2 separate regions of the Homo sapiens genome follow, and region 1 is reported to be linked to region 2. Evidence: microRNA targets listed by miRTarBase, many of them from high-throughput screens and not tested one by one. Region 2 holds a microRNA gene; the other region holds the end of a gene's coding sequence.

Region 1 (3,000 bases), not on the chromosome of region 2:
GGCAGCAGGGCCCCTGCAGAGGTGGCTTCCTGGTCCACCCCGAGCTTTCCCGGGATCCAGCCCGCTAGCCCACAGCAGCAATCCCTGTGCTTCCCTCCCCCTGCAGGTGTGGCGGGCTGGGGCTGGTGCTGGCCAGCGCGGGCTTCGGCATGCTGACGGCACCCATCATCGAGCTGCACAACCAGAAAGGCTACTTCCTGCACCACATCATCTTTGCCTGCTGCACGCTCATCTGCATCATCTGCATCCTCCTGCTGCCCGAGAGCAGGGACCAGAACCTGCCTGAGAACATTTCTAACGGGGAGCACTACACGCGCCAGCCGCTGCTGCCGCACAAGAAGGGGGAGCAGCCACTGCTGCTCACCAACGCCGAGCTCAAGGACTACTCGGGCCTCCACGATGCCGCAGCCGCGGGTGACACACTGCCCGAGGGTGCCACGGCCAACGGCATGAAGGCCATGTAGCCCGGCCTGCGGAACCCGGGGCTCCAGGGTCTGGGGCAGCTTGGGCACAGGTTTACAGACCAGGGACCGAACACGCAGCCAGGGGTGGGAAAGCTGCCTCAGCCAAGCTGAGCCTCTCAACTGGTGTGGGGAAATCCTGTCTTTCCAAAAGTCCAAGGAGCGCGGGTCGGAGGAGACAAACTCTTTGGAAATAACCCTTTCAAGACTTTCTTTTCTGCCGTTAAATGTGTGTATTTATTTTGGTCATTTTTACGAGAAGCACTTTATTCCCTCTCCCTCTCACTGATCACAAATGGAATCACCTCCCTGGGCAGCGAGACGCAGTTGCTCTGGGAAGATGCCACAGTGACCAGGGCCATGGCCGGTCCCTCTGGGGAGATGGGACACGGCTCCTGGCAGCACCCAGGAGCCCCCCAGGCTGCCTGCCTGCGTGCAGAGGCAGGAGAGGACCGTGGAGCGTTTCCGGGACTGCATTTTAGACGGAGTGAAATGTACATGAATTTGGCTTTTGCTAGAGTCTGTGTATGGTTTTTTAAGGTCCTTTTTCCCTTTCTGTTTGTAAGGTAAGAGCTTCTGTTCGTGTGCAGGGAAAGCAGCTCACAGACGCCGTTAAAACCAGCTTCATCTTTCCTTCAGGATCATCCTTTTGTACTTGATGCTGGAAGCTCTTGGAGAAAAAGCTTAAACATTTCACCAGAAATCTTAATTGAGCAGCAGTCATATCGCCACAGCTTTGTGAGTACACAGCTAACAGATGCGTCGAGACCTGAGATGTGCTCGTTTTTATTCCTCCTCTCCCAGATTGGCTCCAGCAGAAAAGTCCCTCGTGCACAGGCAGCTCTTGTGCCGGCACTACTTGAAAACATGGCTACTTTCTAAGCTACAAACCATTAGAAAATAACTCAAAAAGATGGCAGAGGCAAATCCACAGAAGGGGGGCTGCCCTCCACACACACACGCCCGTCACCCACACCTTGAGCACACACCATGAAGATCACCAGCTTGGATGGCCGTCACCTCAGACATCACTCCAGGGAGCACCCGCAGGAGCTGGGCCCCCTCACGCCTGCCTTCCTGGGCCAGCTTCCTGCTTGCAGTCACTCGCATAGCACAGAGGTGGGGCTTCGGGCAGGGAGCGGAGATTCCTCATAGGTGAGTCCAAATGACCTCCAGCCTCTCGAAGGCATCAAGACAAATTGAAAGAAAGCAATAACTCACCAAAGCTCAACGCTGCCCCTGCCTCGACCTCCATGGGTCTCTTCGTGTTCCTCGTTTCACCCCAGAAAGTGGAGGTTTCCTCTTGGCATTTTCGGAGGAAACTTGTAGGACACCCAAGGCGACTAAGAGACAGCCTCCTTGGCAAGGGCAGGCACCACTTTGTAGCAACTTGGGCACCAGCTTTTCTGGACAGCCTGGCTTCTTACTGGCATTGTCCAACTCATCCCTTCTCGAAGCATGTCTTTGCCATGGGCTGTGTCCTTCCAGGGAAATTGTGGTCTCGGGCCTGGGTGAGACAATGAAGTGACTTCCAACCGACAGTTGCTAGAATTCACAGGGCAGAAAAGGGGTTGACCTTCTCCCCTTCTGGCTTTCCACCCGGCCTGCTGCTTGCTGTCGCCACTCATGTCTCCTCCACATGCGGTCCACACATCAGTAAGGGCCTGGAGATGTGTAAAGACACAGCAAGGGGCAAGCAGACTCTTGGCCACGTGTTTCCAGTGGCTGGACCACGCCGACACCTGGGATCTTGAGATACCCAGGAAGGGAGGCTGTCTGGCCAGCCTCTCCCTGCCTCCACTTGCTCCACGTCCAGCTCCTCACCTTCCCTCTTTTTTAAAGTCACATTTCCATGTTTCAACATTAGTTTGCATTCACCTTTACAAAGGCCTTTCTTTAGATCTGTGCAGCCTTTGCGTGCCAAACTTGTGAAATTCCTTTTACCTTTTTTGGAGTACTTGCTATAAAGCCACCTGTCAACAAACCCCCATTATGTACAGAATAGGACCTATCCAGTAGCCAGGCCAGTAGGCAGTTGGGGAAGGTGGGAAGGATCCAGCGAGGCCCCTGAGCCTGCACCTGGACAGGTGTACGTCTGCACCCATCACCCTCAGCACCAGGCCACCCTGCAGTCCACTTACTGTACTGTGTTGTGGAAGGATATGCTAAGTGATGAAAGTTGCGAGCAGTCTCACTGGTCGTGTAAACTTTTTTTTTTTTTTGGAAATTGAAGCTGTAGAGTGCTGCCCGAAATCTCTAGGAAGTTGGTGGCAAGGGACAGCACTCACACTCTTCTGGTCATGATCTCTGATCTCCACCTCAAATGACAATAAAAAACTGGTCCAACGAAGACACTGCTCAGCACTTCAGCCATCAGGACTAATCCATCGATGACTGGAAAAGAGGCTAGCTTTGAGGAAAACAGCCTGGGCTCTTGGGAGCAGAGTCCAGTGGGTGTGAGGCTGACTTGCCGACGGTCGGCAGGTAATGGCTCTCAGCCGGCGAGGCGGTCCCACAGCTCTCCTCCCAGGGCAGCCTG
Region 2 (3,196 bases):
CTCAGCCTCCTGGCTTCATGTTGGCCAGGCTGGTCTCGAACAACTGATCTCAGGTGATCCTCCTGTCTCAGCCTCACAAAGTGCAGGAATTACAGACAAGAGCCACCATATGCACACTAGTCCCATATTTAAAATTAGGAAAAAAAAAAACAAAACAAAGATGCCCACACCTGAACAGCAAATCGTTTGTTGTTCAAGTACATCTCAAATACATTGTTTATCTAAAATACAAGTTTAACTGGGGTCAGGTATGAACCAAAGAACAGTCCTTACTTTCTTCTTGTCTGTGCATGGGGGGTTAATATTCACATGTGGTCCCATCTACCAAGGACTGGGGAGGGGCAGAGGCAGGAGGATCTAAGCCCACTTCAGCCAGGGCAGCATAGTGAGACCGCCGTCTCATGCATTTATCTCCTGGTCATGCACCCAGATTTCAGCTTCATTTCCCCAATAAACACTGAAGCCCCATGCACTCCACCTCCGTGCTCTTGCTCATCCCATCTGCAGGGACACTGAGGTCCCCTCAACTCCACCTGACCCCACGTGAGGTTCTATACCAGTGCCAGAAAAATTTCCATAAAGTAAAAGGTGCTGATGGCTGTGCCCGGTGGCTCACGCCTGTATTCTCAGCACTTTGGGAGGCCGAGGCCAGCGGCTCACTTGAGGTCAGGGGTTTGAGACTAGCCTGGCCAACATGGTGAAACCCCACCTTTACTAAAAAAAAAAAAAAAAAAAAAAAATCAAAATCAAAAAGTAGCTGGTTGTAGTGGTGGGTGCCTGTAATTCCACCTACTCAGGAGACTGAGGCAGGAGAATGGCTTGAACCTGAGAGGCAGAGGTTGGAGTCAGCCGGGATCATGCCACTGCCCTCCAGGCTGGGTGACAGCAACACTCCATCTCAAAAATGAATGAATGAATAAAAAAGAAAAATACAAATATTAGCCGAGTGTGATGTCAGGCATCTGTAATCCCAGCTACCCAGGAAGCTGAGGCAGGAGAATCACTCGAACCCGGGAGGTGGAGGTTGCATTGAGCCAAGATCGCGCCACTGCACTCCAGTCTGGGTCACAGAGCAAGACTGTATCCCATAAAAGGACCATCTGAGCCCAACAGGCCTATCTTAAAAAGTGCTTCTCTAGTCTCTCCTGGGCAACAGAGACCTTGTCTTAGAAAAAAAAAAAAACACAAAACAAAACACACACACCAAAACAAAAAACAAAAACCTAACAAACAAAAAAACCAACCAAACAAACAAACAAAAAAACAGACTCCCAACATCATCCAAGTCTGATTACAAGCATGGTCTGCAAATGTATTACCAAGATCAGCATCATCTTCAACGTGGCTTTTCCCAAACGGTAACACTCTAAAGGGAGGCACTTTGTTTAAGAGAAAACAAACAGAAAGCGCTTCCCTTTGGAGGGTCACAGCATGGGATCTTCTTGCTCCAGCACTCTGGGTTTTTTGTTGAAATCTTCCTTGACCAGGTTAAAATGGCCACAACAATAAAGATGCATTTATTGGCCCTGTTTGCCTGTTTTCTAGAATCCAGAACATAAACCCCTAAAAGGACCATCTCCAGTTCCTTTCTTCAAAGGCTCTGCAGGTTAGCCTTGTTCATCAAGGGGCAACCCTCCTGAGTTTTGCCTCTAAAGAGAAAAAGCAATGCCTACTACACATACCTTATATTTAACCAAGAGAACTGGGCTGGATTTCTAGAGAACAGCAATGGACTTTGAGCTGAGTGTTCACTTGAGTTCCAGCACAGGGATACATAGTTCCGATGGGAGCATCCAAAATGGAGTCTAAGATGTTGAAGAATATACATTGTCACACACACAAACATCCTCCAGGATAGACCACAGGCTAGTGGATCACCTGAAAGCGGGAGTTCAAGACTAGCCTGGCCAACATGGTGAAACCCGTCTCTACTAAAAACATAAAAATTAGCTGGGTGGGGCAGTAGGTGCCTGTAATCCCAACTACCTGGGAGGCTGAGGCAGAAGCATCACTCGAACCCAGGAGGCGGAGGTTGCAGTGAGCCTAGATCATGCCAGTGCTCTCCAGGATGGGCAGCAAGAGTGCAGGACACGATGGTGGGTGCCTGATGCCTGAATTCCCAACAATTCGGCAGGCTGAGGTGGGAGAATCACTGGAACCCGAGAGGTGGAGTTTCCGGTGAGCAGAGATCCTGCTACTGCACTCCCAACGAAACAAGAGTGTGTCTCAAAAAATCAAAAAATAAAAAGAGGACCACTTAAGCCCAAGAAATCTTGGTGGAAGGTGCTATCCACCCACGCCTGGGCAATAGAAAGCCTGTCTTGGAAAAATTTCAAATCACAAACAGAACCCCGACATCATGCAAGTCTGATGATAAGCACGCTCTGCAAATGTATTACCAAGATCAGCAGCATCTTCAACGTTGCTTGTCTCAAACAGTAACACTCTAAAGGGATGCACGATCTTTTCTTTTATACAACAGACAGTGCTTCCATCTAGAGGGTCACTGCCTGAGATCTTCTTTTTTTTGACACGGAGTCTCACTCTGCCGCCCAGGCTGGATGCGGTGGTGGGATCTCGGCTCATGGCAACTTCTGCCTCCTGGGTTCAAGCGATTCTTCTGCGTCAGCCTCCTGAGTAGCTGGGATTAGAGGCACCCACCACCATGCATATTGCATATATGACTGCATATATGACCTGGTCATGCACCCAAGATGTTGGTTTCATTTCCCCAGTGAAAACTCAAACCCCATGCACTCCACCTCCGTGCTCTTGCTGAGCACATCCCATCTGCAAGGGACACTGAGGTCCCCCTTTGACTCTACCTGACCCCACATGAGGCTTTATAAATCAGTGCCAGAATAATTTCCATGGACTAAAAGGTGTTAATGGCCATGTGTGGTGGCTCACGCCTGTAATCTTAGCACTTTGGGAGGCTGAGGTGGGCAGATCACCTGAGGTCAGGAGTTCGCAACCAGCCTGGCCAACATGGTGAAACCCCGCCTCTGCTGAAAATATAAAAATTAGGCCAGGCGTGGTGGCTCATGCCTGTAATCCCAGCACTTTGGGAGGCAGAGGCCGGTGGCTAACTTGAGGTCAGGGGTTTGAGACCAGCCTGGCAAACATGGTGAAATCCCATCTCTACTAAAAAAAAAACAAAAAACAAAAAACAAAAAGTAGCCAGGTGTGGTGGTGG

What was found. Region 2 holds the annotated microRNA hsa-miR-519d-3p (CAAAGUGCCUCCCUUUAGAGUG, at 1,363-1,384, opposite strand). A microRNA usually pairs through its seed, bases 2 to 8, with sites in the 3' UTR of a target mRNA and lowers its output. Matches are read on the target gene's strand: a 7mer-m8 pairs with bases 2 to 8, a 7mer-A1 pairs with bases 2 to 7 and ends in A, and an 8mer does both.
Region 1: miRTarBase lists SLC22A23 as a target of hsa-miR-519d-3p. Seed matches in the 3' UTR shown: 8mer at 723-730.

Annotation. Positions count from the first base shown.
Region 1 is chr6:3,270,519-3,273,518 of GRCh38, reverse strand. It overlaps SLC22A23 (solute carrier family 22 member 23), which reads left to right. Exons shown (of 10, transcript NM_015482.2): 10 at 107-3,000. The coding sequence ends at 464. Among named protein-coding and RNA genes, the nearest start is that of PSMG4, 13 kb to the right of the region's middle.
Region 2 is chr19:53,711,588-53,714,783 of GRCh38, reverse strand. MIR519D (microRNA 519d) reads right to left here and starts at 1,437; the gene lies at 1,350-1,437. It overlaps MIR517A (microRNA 517a), which reads right to left and starts at 2,516; the gene lies at 2,430-2,516.